Regions from separate parts of the Homo sapiens genome. Here region 2 is linked to region 1. The links come from fine-mapping of genetic effects on gene expression. A gene starts in region 1. The other region holds a variant in brackets. All regions are shown on one strand. Distances are between the middles of the regions.

Region 1 (8,340 bases):
TCCCAAAGTTCTGGGATTACAGGCGTGAGCCACTGTGCCCGGCCCAGAAATTTTTTAATGTTTATTCTTTTTTTTTGAGACGGAGTCTCACTCTGTCACCCAGGCTGTAGGGCAGTGGTGCGATCTTGGCTCACTGCAACCTCTGCCTTCTGGGTTCAAGCAATTCCCTGTCTCAGCCTCCTGAGTAGCTGGGATTACAGGCGCCCGCCACCAGGCCCGGCTAATTTTTGTATTTTTAGTAGAGCCAGGGTTTTGCCATCTTGGCCAGGCTGGTCTTGAACTCTTGACCTCGTGATCCACCTGCCTCGGCCTCCCAAAGTGCTGGGATTACGGGCATGAGCCACTGCGCCCGGCCCTAGAAGTTGTTTTTAGAAAACAATTTCTCAGCCATGTTTCATAATCCAACCATTGGCTCTCTGCCCAATATTGAAAATATAATTTTCAGCAATTTAATCCTCATATATGGGTCATTATTATGTAGATTTGATTTTGCTAGTGGTTTACTTATGTCCCTGGAATCATAAGGTAAAAAGTATTGGACTTCAAGTCAGCAGATACAGTCTTGTCCCAGATTTGTCAATAATTTGTTGTGTAACCCTGGCAAGTCACTTAATCTTAGTTTTCTCTTCTGGGTTAACAATTATCAAGATAGAATCATAGTATGTTGGAATTGGCAGGGACTTCATTAATTACAATTTCTATTTTGTGGAGAGGTTGAGTGACTTACCCAACCACCTGTATAGTCAGGACGTTTTCTTTCTTTCTTTCTTTTTTTTTTTTTTGAGATGGAGTCTCTCACTCTGTCACCCAGGCTGGAGTGCAATGGCACGATCTCGGCTCACTGCAACCTCCAACCCCCGGGTTCAAGTGATTCTCTTGTCTCAGTCCCTCTAGTTGCTGGGATTACAGGTGCACGCCGCCATGCCTGGCTAATTTTTTGTGTGTGTGTGTGTTTTAGTAGAGATGGGTTTTTACCATGTTGCCCAGGCTGGTCTTGAACTCCTGAGCTCAGGCAATCCACCCGCCTCAGCCTCCCAAAGTGTTAGGATTACAGGCGTGAGCCACTGCGCCCAGCCTCTTTTTTTTTTTTTTTTTTTTTTGAGATGGAGTTTTGCTCCATTGCCCAGGCTGGAGTGCAGTGGCACAATCTTGGCTCACTGGAACCTCTGCCTCTGGGGTTCAAGTGATTTTCCTGCCTCAGCCTCCAGAGTAGCTGGGATTACAGGCACATGCCACCATTCCCAGCTAATTTTTTGTATTTTTAGTATAGTCATGGTTTCACCATGTTGGCCAGGACCTCAAGTGCTCTGCGTGCCTTGGCCTCCCAAAGTGTTGAGATTACACACAGGAACAACCACACCAGGCCTTCAGGAGCTTTTCTAGAGCAAGCAGTCAATCTTTGGCAACACAGACTCAGGCTTTCTTTCAATGTTGTTTCAAGAAACAAACAAAAAGTGAAAGCACTAAACAAATATAAGGCCATAAAAAAAGAAAAAAAAGCCTGATAAATGTTAACCATTAGCCTGCACTGTAGCCTGAAAACTTATCTGAAAATTTAGCCCATCTAACGCAAAGAAAATTTCTTTCTTTTTTTTTTTTTCTTGTTTGAGACAGAGTCTTGCACTGTTGCCCAGGCTGGAGTGCAATGGTGCGATCTTGGCTCACTGCAACCTCTGCCTCCCGGGTTCATGTGATTCTCCTGCCTCAGCCTCCCGAGTAGCTGGGATTACAGGTGCACACCACCACACCCAGCTAATGTTTTGTATTTTTAGTAGAGATGAGGTTTCACTATGTTGGCCATGCTGGTCTTGAACTCCTGAGCTCATGATCCGCTCTCCTTGGCCTCCCAAAGTGCTGGGATTACAGGCATGAGCCACCGTGCCTGGCCCTCAAAGATAATTTCAAATTGAGAAGTTCTGAAAGTATAATAGCTTTTTTTTTTTTTTTTTTTTGAGACAGAGTTTCCCTCTTGTTGCCCAGGCTGGAGTGCCATGGCGTGATCTCGGCTTACTGCAACCTCTGCCTCCCAGGTTCAAGCAATTCTCCTGCCTCAGCCTACCGAGTAGCTGGGATTACAGGCATGCATCATCACGCCCGGCTAATTTTGTATCTGTTAGTAGAGATGGAGTTTCTCCATGTTGGTCAGGCTGGTCTCGAACGCCCGACCTCAGGTGATCCGTCCACCTCGACCTCCCAAAGTGCTGGGATTACAGGCATGCGCTACCGCGCCCAGCCTGAGAAGTTCTGAAACTATAGAAGGAAAGATCAGAAAAATAATAGGTAGGAAAAAAAATTCATGGTTGGCTTGGAGAATACCCTTGAAGGGTGTTAAGTAAAAATGATAGGAGGCCTTTGTTTTGGACTAAACTCCTGCACCAGGCCCCAATAGACCTGGCTAAAATAAAAATGGAGTCACCCATGCTAAAGTTTCACCTCACCAAATCCAAACTAAGTTGTTACCAAACCCAAGCTAAGTTGTTATCTGACCTTCAGAGAAATCAGGAAAGAGGGATAAGGACAGCCAGTTTCCCAAACAGGCTTGTTTTAATGTTGCATGATAATGAAGCTCCCTCTGTTGTAATCCTTACACAAAAGAAGTAGCCTGAAGTAACTGATGTCAACTAATCAGTTATTTTTCTATTGTTCTGTCTCTCTGTCCTCACCTTCCAAGGAAAGTAGCTTAGAAGTGACCAATATGTCAAGGTCCCATGAGAAGACTGAAAAAAAGAGAAGAAAGAGGAAAGAAAAGAATGACAAGAAAGAGAAAGAAAGAAACCAATATGCTCTTTGTTCTTTGCTTTTGCTTCCTCAAGCTTTTCTCTGTCTACAAAGCCAACCTCTCCTGCTCAGCTCATCAGAACATTCACTCCACTTTCTGGAATGAAGTGTTGCCTGATCCTAGAGTCGCAATAAAGCCAACTGAGATCTTAAAACTAAATTCGTTGTAATTTTGTCCTTTGCCAAGGGGGGAAAAACAACAAAAACTTCCCAAGAGTACCTATATCCTCTTATCACTTTTTCTGGTCTTTTCCTTAGTTTTTGCGAAGTGAAATTGGGAAGGTGGAGACTGTCTGTGCTCACACGTTTCTGAGGGAATGGTGTGCAAGAGGTTACTTGAATCCAAATTAATTGACTCACCATTTCCCACTTATACTAGACATTATTACATCAGTTCTCTAATGTAGCACCATGCCTTCCCCAGTTACAACCCAAAAGAACGTGCTGAAACCTGCGGACACCACACTCAATGCAAAAACTCCAAGTCCCGAAATCCTCCGTAGCCTGTCCCCACCGCCTCCTCGCAAGAGCAGCCTCTTCAGTACTGGGAGTTGTAGTCATTCAGAGTCTTCCTTTCCGGGATGAGGGGCGAGAGCGCGCCTCGAGGAGCTACATCTCCCAGGAGGCAGTGCGCACTACGCCCTTGCTGGCGCCGGGATCCTCCCTCTCTCGCTCCTCCCTTTCTGGGCTGCACCGCTCACGCCTTCCTGTTAGTCCGAGCTGGGAGAAGTTCACTCCGATCAGCTGATCCCAACTGACAACAGGAGAGGAGGAAGCCCGGGAGGCAACGAAGGAGGAGGGTGGCGGAGATGGAGATGAGGATGGATCTGCCGGTGTCCTGAGGAATAGCCTCTGCCCCCACTGGCGCCCTGCGGCCCCCCGACGCCGCCTTGCTGCGGCCGAGCTTCTCAGTGGTGGGATCCCCGGGCCGCGGCGGGCAGGGCAGGGCGGGGAGGGCACGGCCCAGCGCGGGGCGAGTGATCGTCCTGGGGCTCAGGCTGCCCTCGGGAGGAAGGGGGGGCGGGTGCGGCGGGGGTGGGGGTGGGGTGGTATAAACAATGGATTCGGCTCCGGGTTTTGCCGGCGTGGGGGGGATTTTGGGGGACCTTCTTTGTTCTTAGGCTCCGCTCCTGCCCCTCGGGTTGTGGCGGTGGTGTCCGGGTGGAAGGAAGGGTGAGGAACCCCCGGCTGGGGAGAGGTGTCGAGGTGGGGGCCCGAGTGGGCAAAATGTTTGGTTGACATGGCCGGGCGTGAGGTGTACTTTTGAAGGTTGATTTTATATTTTTCTCAATTGTGACAAGTTTGATTTTTGTTTCTGTTTTGGGAGCTGGCTGGGCATGTCTGAGGTTAGATTGTAGTAAATAAGATCCCCTAGTCACTCCCTTCGCCTTCCTTGTTTATCTGAAAATAAGGTTGATAGATTGATTACTGTAGGGGAGGAGTGACTATCAGAAAGGCAGGGCTTTACACCTTGTCGGGGCCTTGGAATGCGGGTCAAGGCTAGGGGGAATTAGGAATATAATTGTCAAAGTGACAAAAGCCCCTTTCTTGCCCCAGTTATCTTTTTTCGTATTTTGAAGTTATTTTTAAGTTAGTTTTTAAGTGACAAAGAGAAAAATTATTTGTTTTGATTCACTGCAGGCCTGGCTTTGCCATGGGTCAAAGTAGAGGAATTGTCTCCTGTTGCTCCTTTTTTTTTTTTTTTTCAGTTAGTGAAAGAAGGGACAGAAGAATTACAGTGTAAAAAAATTGTTTTTAAAGATGAAATTGTTACTATTGTTTCTAAGTTTTGAGTCTTTAATATACATCTAGCTAGAGTTGAAACAATCCAGTTACAAGGCTAACCAGGTCGGCCCAGGTATTTGATAGATCTAAAGTTTATTATTACATTTTCATTAGCTTTGTGAAGGCCTCTCCACTCCTCCCAATTGTGGGATGCATGTGGGGGTGCAGAGGGCTGTCCTTCCAAGGACTACTCACTTAGTGATTTAGATTCTGAATTTAATATCTGAATGAACAGAAAATTCCAGTCTGGGAAATAGAGCAGCAAAGTCTCTTAAATGCCTTGGGCCTAGAGGTGGCGTTTGTTGTCAAGAGGAGGAGCTTTAGCCACAATTTTGAGATTTTTTTTTTTTTTTTTTTTTTTGAGGGAGTCTTGCCCTGTCTTCCAGGCTGGAGTGCAGTGGCAAGATCTTGGCTCACTGCAACCTCCGCCTCCTGGGTTCAAGTGATTCTCCTGCCTCAGCCTCCCTAGTAGCTTGGATTACACGTGCCTGCCACCATGCCCAGCTAATATTTGTATTTTTAGTAGAGATGGGATTTCACCATGTTGGACAGGGTAGTCTCGAACTCCTGACCTCAAGTGATCTGCCCACCTCGGCCTCCCAAAGTGATGGAATTACAGGTGTGAGCCACTGCGCCTGGCTATACAACAAGCCAGTGTAAGTGTTAAGATAGAAAATGAGATTTCTGGCCAGGTGCGGTGACTCACGCCTGTAATCCCAGCACTTTGGGAGGCCAAGGCGGGCAGATCACCTGGGGTCAAGAGTTCAAGACCAGCCTGGCCAACATGGTGAAACCCCGTCTCTACTAAAAATACAAAAATTAGCTGGGCATTGTGGCTAGCGCGTGTAATCCCAGCTCCTTGGGAGGCTGAGGCAGGAGAATCGCTTGAACCCGGGAGGCGGAGGTTGCAGTGAGCCGAGACTGTCCCATTGCACTCCAGCTTGGGCAGCAAGAGCAAAACTCTGTCTCAAAAAAAAAAAAAAGAAAAAAAAGAGGAATGAGATTTCTCTCAGCAGTTCTGGGCTAATATTTAATTTAGTCAAAAAAAATTTTTTTAAAGGTGCACTTCTGTTTTTTAGATGAGTGAAATCCTTTTCCTTCCTCTATTCTAGGTATCCCCTGAAATACTGACTTCAGGTCGAATTATATTGAAAAGCTCCTGACCACTTTCTTTCATTACCAAAACTTTGTAGCTGATGTCCAACCGATGAACCCACCACCGTGAACCCATCAGACCTCTCTCAGATAGCCATAAAAGACCCTTCCAAGTCAATTTTGACCACATCTTTGCTTGCACTTTATGGAGGATGAAACCATCAAACCAAATCAACGTTGCTGCTAATACAAGAGTCTTAGAGGCAGCAAATTAAAAATTTGAACATTTGTTTGTGAAGAACTATAACAGGACATGAAAGGTGTTCTTTTTTAAAGTGTTCAGAACCCTGTGGAAGTTTCGTGCAGTCTTCAGACTCAAATCTTCGTCTTCACCCCCGGGGCAAGCTCAGTGACTATTATATGGTGGGTGTGTTTCCTTACCAGCGTGAGTATGAGTGCCCAGACTTCCCCAGCAGAGAAGGGCCTGAATCCGGGGCTGATGTGCCAGGAAAGTTACGCTTGCAGCGGGACTGATGAAGCTATCTTTGAGTGTGATGAGTGCTGCAGTCTGCAGTGTCTCCGCTGCGAGGAGGAGCTCCATCGGCAGGAGCGCCTGAGAAACCATGAGCGGATAAGACTCAAACCTGGCCATGTCCCTTACTGTGACCTCTGCAAGGGTCTCAGTGGGCATTTACCAGGTGTTAGGCAGAGGGCAATAGTGAGGTGCCAGACCTGCAAAATTAACTTGTGCCTGGAGTGCCAGAAGAGGACTCATTCTGGGGGTAACAAAAGGAGACACCCTGTTACTGTGTACAATGTCAGTAATCTCCAGGAGTCACTGGAGGCAGAAGAGATGGATGAGGAGACCAAGAGGAAGAAGATGACTGAGAAGGTTGTGAGTTTCCTCCTAGTAGACGAAAATGAAGAAATTCAGGTAAGCACACGGGTATAGTGGGATTCATGTGTAGTGGAGCAGATCTGTTGTTGGAAGCCAGCTCTCAAAAAACGATGTCCAAGAAGAGATCACATTTTAATCATTAAAAGGCAAGACCTCTGGAGGCTTTAGTTGCATGGAGTCAGATTTAGTTACCAGCTGCATGACCTCTGGCCGAATTACTTTACTTTTCTGAGCCTTAGCTTTTTCATCTATAAAATGGGGGACAGCCTACTTCATCGAGTTGTGAGGTTGAAATGAGACAGTGTTTGTAGAGCCTGTCGCATAATAAATGGTCAGTGTATACGGTAGCTGTTGTTAGTATTAATTGTAGCATTATTATTAGAACAAACTGATTTAAAACATTTCAGAATGAGAGCACCCTGGCAAGCTGTGAGTAAATGTTAGTGATGCGGGACTGCACCTATCCAGGGAAACACACACTAACAGTGGGTCCCATGGGAGTGCTAGCTAATAAGGCATAAACCTGTTATCTTGATTTAAAAAGTGGCTTTTAATAAGGACAATATTCTTTCCAGATGGTCTCTTCATATATATATTATATATATAAAACATATATAAAATATATATATAATATATATAAAACATAAAATATATATTATATATAAAACACATAAAATATATATATTATATATAAAACATATATAATATATATTATATATAAAACATATATAATATATATTATATATAAAACATATATAATATATATTATATATAAAACATATATAATATATATTATATATAAAACATATAATATATATATTACATATAAAACATATAAAATATATATTATATATAAAACATATATAAAATATATATATATATATATATATATATATTTTTTGAGATGGAATTTCGCTCTGTCACCCAGGCTGGAGTGCAGTGGTGCCATCTTGGCTCACTGCAACCTCTACTTCCTGGATTCAAGCGATTTTCCTGCCTCAGCCTCCCAAGTAGCTGGGATTACAGACATGTGCCATCACGCCTGGTAATTTAGAATTTTTAGTAGAGACGGGGGTTCACCATGTTGGCCAGGTTGATCTTGAACTCCTGACCTCAAGTGATCCACCCGCCTTGGCCTCCCAGAGTGCTGGGATTACAGGCGCGATTGGCTGGTCTCTTCATATTTTCTTGTATAGGTTTCTGATCAGTAAAAGCCAGTGAGGGGCATCTGGGAGTACAGAATGACTAGGGGATATTTGGCTTGAGTCTGAGTTGGGGAGATGGTAGTGTTGTGACAGCTAGGTGAGATTGGGGAAGGGGTAGTATAATGTTTATACTTTTGAATGAAGGTAGTGTAATGTCTATACTTTTCTTTTGAGTGGGCTTTCAAGTGAAGTTTGCTTGAATTCACATACTTGTTTACCAATCACTATATAGCCAAGGGTAAGTGATAAAAATCCTTTCCATTCCTAATCTTTTTGAGTCCTATCAACAATCCTGTGAAGTACCAGTGAAACTGAGGCACAGCTTAAATGATTTTTATCACAGTCTGGCACATAGTATCCAGTACCAGTTTGTTGTAGTCAGTATCACTGGAGTATCTGTGGTCCACTGACTCAGTACTTTTGATGGTGGTGACTCCTTAGGTTTCCAGTTTGGAGGGGAGTACCTATGTAAGTTACCATTTGAGAGGCTGCCTAATTACCCACCTAATATTTTTCTTCTGTACTTTTTTCCTTCTTGGATAAAGCTGATGGAAATGAGTTACATCATGATTCCTGTAT
Region 2 (8,340 bases), 270 kb after region 1:
TTTTTTAAATCTTCTACATCCTTATTTTCTATTTATTCTATGAATCATTGAGAGGTAGGGTATTGAAACTTATGACTATAATTGTGGGTTTGCTTATTTCTCCTTACAATTCTATTACTTTTTGTTTCATGTATATTGAAGCTTTGTTATTAGGTGTATAAACATTTAGTATTGTTATATCCTCAATAAATTGATTCCTTTATCATTATAAAATAATCCTCTTAATCTCTATTAATATTATTTTATCTGAAATCTCCTTTGTCTAATTCCAATATAGCCACTCCAGCTCTCTTTTGATTAATATTAACATGAAATATCTTTTTCCATTCTTTTACTTCTTGCCTATTTGCATCTTTATATTAAAAGTAGTTTTTTAATAGGCAGCATATAGTTGTGTTATGCTTTTTACATGTAATCTGACAATCTTTTTTAAGTAGGGGTATTTAGGCAATTTACATTTAATGTGATTATGTTTTCTCTCTTTTTTGTTGGTTTATTAACTATAACTCTTGTTTTGTTGTTATTTTAGTGATTGCTTAGTGTTTATAGTGTACATCTTTAATTATAGTTAACTTTCAAATTATATTATTCTATTTCATGAATAGTATAAGGAGTCTACAATAGTACTGTGATTAATAGAATAAGGCCCCTCCTCACCTCAGACATCCACATTTTAATTACTGAAATCTGTGCGTATGTTACCTTACATGGCAAAAGGGACTTCGAAGACAGGATTAAGGATTTTGAGATGGTGCGATAATCTTGGATTATCCAGGTGGGCCTAATGTAATCACAAGGGTTCTTATAAAAGGAAGGCAGGAGGAGTTCAGAGTCAGAGTAGATGTGTTGATGGATTACAGGCATGCGCCACCATGCCTGGCTAATTTTTGTATTTTTAGTCGAGATGGGGTTTCTCCATGTCGGTCAGGCGGTTCTCGAACTCCCGACCTCAGGTGATGTGCCTGCCTTGGCCTCCCAAATTGTTGGGATTACAGGTATGAGCCACCGCGCCCGGCCATCATTGTATTTTTAAAAATAGTTGATCATCTTTTAATGAGTTTAAAATAATAAGAAAAACATCTCGTATAATTATTCATGTACTAGACCATTTCTGATGCTGTTCATTCCTTTGTGTAGATCCAAATTTAGGTCTGGTATTACTTTCCTTCTGCCTAAAGTACTTCTTTTTAACATTTCTTAGAGTGTGGGTTTGTTGATGATGAATTATTTCAGCTTTTGTATATCTGAAACTATCTTTAGTTTGCCTTAGTTCTTGAAAGATATTTTAGCTGGGTATAGAATTCTAGTTTGACAAGTTTTTTTTTCCCTTTCAGTATTGTAGGGATGTTGAACCACTCTTTTCTTGCTTGCATTGCAAAGATAAGAATGTTCCTGTATATGTTAACATGTTTCCTTTCTCTGGTTGCTTTTAATATTTTCTCTTTATCACTATTTTTGAGCAGTTTTGATTATGACATACTTTGCTGTAGTTTTCTTAATGTTTATTGTACCTAGCTTTATTGAGCTGCTTAGACCTATGGGTTTATAGTTTTCATCAAATTTCAGAAATTTCCAGCCCTTATTTCTTTTTAAATTCTTTCTTTCTTCCTTCCTTCCTTCCCTTTCTTCCCTCTCTCCCTTCCTCCCTTTCTCTGTCTCTCTCTGTCTCTCTTTCATCTCTCTCTCTCTCTCTCTCTTTTGTGGAGACAGGATCTTACTATGTTGCCCAGGCTGCTCTCAAACTCCCAGGCTTATGGCATTCTTCCACCTTGGCCTCCCAAAGTGTTGGGATTAAAGGCATGAGCCGCTGCACCCAGCCTCCAGCCATTATTTCTACAAATATTTTTTCTTCCCTTTCTTCAATTACACATATATTAGGCTGTTTGAAGTTGCCCCACAGCTCATTTATGCCATTATTTTTTTTTCTTTTCTGTTTTTTCCTGTGGGTTTCATTTTGGAATAGTTTCTATTGCTGTGTTTTCAAGTTTATCTGTCTTTTCTTCTGCAATATCTAATCTGACATTAACTCCCTCTGATATGATTTTCATCTTGCACATTATAGTTTTCATTTCTAGAAGTTAAATTTGAGTCTTAAAAATACATATGTATCTCCCAAATTTTTACTAAACTTGAACACAGAGCATACAAATAATGTTTTAATGTTCTTGCTACTAATTCTAATATCAGTTTCAGTTCTGGGTTGGTTTCAATTGATTGATTTTTCTCCTTATTATAAGTCATATTTTCCAGCTTCTTTACATGCCTTGTAATTTTGGGTTGGGTGCCTCACATTGTGAATTTTACCTTGCTGAATGCTGTAGATATATTTTATTCCTATAAATGTTCTTGAACATTGTTTTGGGACATATTTAAGTTATTTGAAAACAGTTTGATGTTTTCTTGTCTTGCTTTTAAGATTTGTTAGGTGGAGCCAGAGCAGTACTTAGTCTAGGGCTAAGTATTCCCTATTAGTGAGGCAAGATCTTTCTACTGTACTCTACCCAGTACCCCGGGAATCATACAGTTTTCCATATTGGCTGGTGGAAACAGACTATTTCCGCCCCCTTGTGCACACCGAGCGCTGTTACCTCTAATCTTTTTGGGTAGTTCTTTTCCCAGTCCTATCTAGTTTCCTCACAGGCATAAATGGATCAACGCTAAGCTGAATACTTGAAAGGGACCCTCTGGATCTCCACATTCTCTGTGCAGCTCTCTTTTGTTTACCCTTCAGTTCCTTGGGTTCTAGTCACTGTGGTCTCCTCAGACTCTTGGCATTTTCTCTTCAACTCAAACGTGGGGAATCTGCAGGTCTCCACCTGTATTCCTCCTCCTTGTGTTCCAGTCTGGAGACTCTCTTAAGGCTGTAAGCTGGGGCAATCACAGGGCTTATCTTGCTTGTTTTCAGTGTCTCAGGGATCACTGTCCTTCAATGCCTGATGTTCATTGTCTTCAAAACTGTTGTTGATTTTTTTCTTCCTCTCTTTTGGTTTTAGGTGGGAGCTAAATCTGGTCTTTATACTCCATTTTAGTCAGAAACGGATGTATGCTTTTTATTTTAATTTAATTTTACTTTATAATTGTGTAAAATATTTGCATTGTTCCAATGGTATATTATGAGAAAGTCTAACTGTATCTTCACTTTTACCCTGTTTCTTTTTCGTATAGGCAATTTCCTCTTCGTCCTTCTCTTTTTCTTGCTACTATTATTTTATTTTTGCTCTCTCTCTAGGTAATTTTTTTTAGCTTTTGGCTTATACCCCCATAAAAAAAAACATGCAAACACACCACACACATATATTTGTCTGAATATGTGTGTATCCCCATTTGTTAAATAAATGATAGTATGTTATATACATAACAGCCATCCTTTAGTATCCACTGGGAATTGGTTCTAGGACCCCAGAAGATACCAAAATCTGTGGGTACTCAAGTCCCTTATATAAAATGGCATAGTATTTGCATATAACCTACACACATTCTCCCATATTCCTTAAATCATTTCTAGATTGCTTATAATACCTAATACAATGTAAATGCTATGTAAATAGGTATTATATTGTATTTTTTTAAATTGTATTTTAAATTGTTGTATTGTCATTTTCTATTTGGAAACTTTGATCCTGTTACCCGGTTCTGAGCAGGGGTAGTCACTAACTCTTTCCTACAACTCTTATTCCTCTTTAGTTCCTCGGCTTCTTGGTTAGCTGCCCTTCAAACCCAAGCAGATATATGGGATGCAGGATTGGGATGTAGCTGTTTGCTGTTGGAACAGAGGGTGGACAAATTGGTATAACTTATAGGGAGATAGATTTTGATTCAAAATAAGGTCATGGTGAATCTCTTTATCACAGTAAGAGTTGGCCGACAGTGGGACACTGTGTCCTGTGACATAATAAATTCTCCATTGAAAGGAAGTTTCAGGGGCAGCTGTGGGTCCACCTCTCTGAGATCCTGCAGAGAGAGAGCCTTTCCCTGGGGGGCTTGAACTGCCACAGTTCAGCTCTGGATGGGGAAAGATGAAACTACTTCAGTTTTTTTCTTCCCCATTTCAATTGCTGTTCCTATCCCATATCATTCTTCTCCCCTCCCTCCCTCCCTCCCTCTCTCCCTTCCTCCCTTCCTTCCTTCCTTCCTTCCTCTCCCCCTTTCTCCCCCTCTGTCCCTCTCTCCCTCTCTCCCCTTCTTCCCCTCTTCTCTCCTCTCTCCCTCTCTCCCCTTCTCCCCCTCTTTCCCTCTCTCCCCCTCTTTCCCTCTCCCTTTCTCTTCTCTTCTCTTCTTTCTTTCTTTCTTTCTTTCTTTTTTTCTTTTCTTTCTTTCTTTCCTTCTTTCCTTCCTT[T/CCTTT]CTTTCTTTCTTTCTTTCTTTCTTTCTTTCTTTCTTTCTTTCTTTCTGTCTTTCTTTCTTTCACAGAATCTTGCTCTGTCATATAGGCTGGAGTGCAGTGGCATGACCTCAGCTCCTATAACCTCCACCTCCTGGGTTCAAGCAATTCTCCTGCCTCAGCCTCCCGAATAGCTGAGATTACAGGCATGCGCCACCATACTGGCTAATTTTTGTATTTTTGATAGAGATGAGGTTTCACCATGTTGGCCAGGCTGGTCTTGAACTCCTGGGCTTCAGTGATCTGCTGGCCTTGGCTTCCCAAAGTACTGGGATTACAGACGTCAGCCACTGTACCCGGCCACTCTTCCCTCTCTTTTCTCTCCCATTTCATCTTCTAAATTCTGAATAGCTCATGCTTTGTCTGTGAGAGATGCCCAGAACCCTCAGGATCCACCTGCTGAACTTGTGCAATGTGCATAACCAGCTGTATTTGTCTGGAGTCTGCTAACCATAAAGGCATCAAGCCTTTCAATGCCAGGTATTTCCATGGAGCCAGTTCTCCCAGCAAGTGTGTGAGTTTTTGATTGTGTGTGTGTGTCTTTGTGCATCACATTTGTGCTTACACATGGGCAGGAATGTTGTAGCTCGAGTTGCAGCTCAAAGTAACAGAAAAGTAGTTTGCTCAGTGGGGTATGTGAAGTGAGGGGTGGCAGTGGCCTTGGTTACCAGGGAGGACTGGTTTCCCCTCTTGTCTTTGGCCACTTGTTTCCCCTCCTTCATGTCCCCTCCCCAGCCCTAGGCTCACTCCCCAAGGTTAATTTCCCTGACAGCAGCTGTGACTCCATCCTCCTTCCCCACCTCCATCTACCACACATGCACATGCACGCACACATATGCACACACACACATGCTTTGAGTTATCTGCCTCCTGTTCTGAGATAAACAACATAAGTCTCATGGGGCCCTGCTCTTCCCTCTGTAAGTGGAACTCCAGGGCTGAACGTGTTTTTCCTATAAAGGAACCCTGGTGCCTGTCAGCCTGTTGAGGAGGGCAAGGAAGGGGCCAGGGAGCTCCAAGAGAGCTCTTGCGACCATTTGCTTGTTGTGATGAGGTGGATTCAAAGCAGACATCAAAAAGAAGCCTGTTTCCACCTTCATGGCTAAAGAACCAAGTGGCAGCATGGTGGATGGGGCAGGGGGTCTGTCATGTTGCATGAGTGTGGAGTCCAAGACTAGGTCAGCTAACTCATGACAATTAACAACTGACATTTGTCATCTTTGTGGATATAGAGAGCTTTCTCTTGAATATAAGCAAATCCCCATAACAGCCCCAGGAGGTAGGTATTAATGTTATCAATGCCCTTATCTTACAGGTGAGGCAATAGGCTCAGAAAGGTGTTAGGATGCTTCCCAGGACTCACGTGCTCTTCCTTTGCACTGCAGAGTGTCTCCAATCCAGCAGAGAAAGAATGGAACAAAAACAGCCCCTTCTTCTGGAGATTCAAACTAGTTGCTAAAATGAATTCTCCCAGAAGAATGGGTCTAAAGCTCCAAGCAGAGTGGCCTGGGGCTTCTCTGGTACCGCTGACCACCAAGCACAGTGACTGCTGTCTCAGGGAGGGTGTAGGACCTGGACAAGTGTGGACACTTTTGCACTCTTGCCACGTAGACCTTTGGAGGGTGCTGGTGGGGGCCAGCTCACTCTTACTTACCTGTGTTTGATTAGGTTGGAAGCACCGTAAAGCAGCCACTGGGGAACGAAGGAAACCTAAGGCCCAGAGATGGCCATGGTGGGAGAGGGGGTGCAGGGGGCTCTGGCCTCAGGCCTGGGCCTCCACTTCTGGAGTCCCTCTTGGATGCTTTGGATCTGGGTGGATGAGTCCCCTGGAGCCAGGAACAGCAGGGCCAATGGTCATTCAATTCTGACATTTCTGAGTCCAGGTCAGTTCTAGTTTCTAAGAACCAAAGGGGTGGGGTGGTCAGAACCTCCAACTTGTTCACAATCTTGTGACCTGTGGAGCAGCTGTGTGATTAAACATAAAGAGACCTGAGTATTTTGGTTCCTTTAATGCTGGGATAATTGACTTTGTTTTGGCCCCATCCCAATAAATGGGTAGAGTTGACTGGTAAAAATGAAAATGAATGAATGAGTATATAGCAATGAAAGTTACATAGATTTTCTCTGCAAAGGTGAAAAATGAAGCCAGTTTCCCTTCTTAACTTTTAAGGGCCCTAAAATGGAAGACGGCAGATGGGAATCAGGTGCTGATGTTTTCTGAATCCATGGTCCTAGGTGTGCACAGTGACACTTTTGTGGTAGGCCGCCTGCGTCCAACAGCTGCCATGTGCCACATTTACCTGCAGAAGACAGAGTTGTGATTTTAAAGGAAGCTGCAATATATTCATTCATTAATTCAATGAGTATTTAGTTTGGTTCTGCTCTGTGTCAGGCACAGTTCTGATTCTGGGGCTTCTGACAAGAACAAGACAAAAAAGTCCCTGTCTTCATTAGGCTTTTCTTCCTATTAGGGATTTGTTGGCTTGCTGGTTTATTATGGGGGGTATCAGACACTCTCTTCAGGACTACAAATCACCTAGCCAGTCTGAAAATTACCTAGCCAGTCTCAAATACCTGCCTCCTCACCCCTCAGCCTCTTCCCCGCCCCATTTCCCTGGGAATAGTCTGTGACCTGGCATGGAGAAGTCCCTGTTCCTCTAAGGCCCGTGGCTGCCACCAGAGCCACACACAATTGTTGTCGGGTGAGCAGGAAGGCTCCTCATGGTGCTTGGCATGACAGTGATGCTGTTGGTGTCAAAGGCCACACACACAGGGTGGCACGTAAGCCCAGCCCCTGGCCTCCTGCCTATTTTTTTTTTTTTGTAAGGCCCAGGCATGTAGGCGGGGATATAGAGGTGTGCGGGCTCTGCAGGTCATGTGGCCTGGTCACCAGAGTGGGTTTATGTTCTCATGGGGGCTACACAAGCCTCCATTTGCCTACAGTGAGCTGCCAGCAGCTGGGAGTGGGTGGGAGACGCCTTTGAGTAGATCTAGTGTTTTTGGTTCTGTCTCTTTGCGATGCTTCTCAACCCAGGCTGTCCATACAGTAGGCCAACTGACTGCTGCTCCGTTTTGAAGGGAACCTGCTTAACCTGGATCAGGATAGAGGGGCAGTGGATAGAGATCCACTGCTTTGGAGACACTGCAAAGGTCCTTCTTGTCTGAAGGTCCAGTTGGTGATCTCTCCAGGCAGGAGAGCAGAATTGGTTTTGGTGAAGGCAATGGCTCTCGTTGGCATGGGCTTGCTGAACAGCATGGTGGAGCTGACAGAGCCAGGGTCCTGGGGTCAGATGACCTAGATTCAGCCTTGCCACCACTAGCAATCAGCTTTGTGATGTTGACAAGTCACTTCTCTCTGGGCTTCAGCTTCCTCTCCTTGTGAATGACGGGGTTAGTCAGGGTAGTTTCCAAGGCCCCTTCCAGCCTGGAGCCTTTAATCTTTATATTGTCTCTGTCCACAGGCCTTGCCCCGGGCCAGCTGTATACATACCCTGCCCGCTGCTGGCGCAAGAAGAGACGATTGCACCCACCTGAAGATCCAAAACTGCGGCTGCTGGAGATAAAACCTGGTCAGTGCCCTCTGGAGCTTGGCTGGGTCTGTGATGGGAAAGGTGGGAGGACTGGGCTGGGCCCAGGACAAGGTTGGTTTGCTCCTTTGTCCATAGAGCTAAGTTTTCTGGGAGAGGGAACATGCCCACATCATGCTTAAGGGTGCACCTCTGTGCCTGCTGAGTAGAAACATGACCACGTGTCCACCTGAGCTTTTCTCCCCTCTGGGTGTCTCATGCCTTCCCTTTGCCACCCCAGGGAGGAAAGAAAGGCTGCACCCCAGCCCAGGTGCAGGATGAATTTCCCAACAGAACTGAAGGATGTGCAGCTCTTTCGGGTCATGTGATACTTTTCTTGTGGCCTCAAGTAAAGAAATCTTGGCCCAGTTTGTATGTTTCTAAGGAGAAGATAATACACC

Alleles and levels. Alleles are on the strand shown, and positions count from the first base shown. SD is a standard deviation of normalised expression in the study named.
For the expression in CD4 T cells of the gene that starts at base 3,512 in region 1, allele T in region 2 goes with a higher level than allele CCTTT (large effect, 0.89 SD a copy in CEDAR).

What was found. PIP is the estimated chance that this variant, and not a neighbour inherited with it, causes the effect.
Region 2: its variant is fine-mapped to the expression of ZFYVE1 in CD4 T cells (CEDAR, PIP 0.95).

What each region holds. Positions count from the first base shown.
Region 1 is chr14:73,022,278-73,030,617 of GRCh38, reverse strand. ZFYVE1 (zinc finger FYVE-type containing 1) reads left to right here and starts at 3,512. Exons shown (of 12, transcript NM_021260.4): 1 at 3,512-3,692; 2 at 5,676-6,592. The coding sequence starts at 6,110. RefSeq lists an enhancer at 3,170-3,369 and a silencer at 3,600-3,809.
Region 2 is chr14:72,752,866-72,761,205 of GRCh38, reverse strand. It overlaps DPF3 (double PHD fingers 3), which reads left to right. Exons shown (of 11, transcript NM_001280542.3): 3 at 7,835-7,942. Among named protein-coding and RNA genes, the nearest start is that of DPF3, 140 kb to the left of the region's middle. The variant T/CCTTT (reference allele first, on the strand shown) is at 4,337.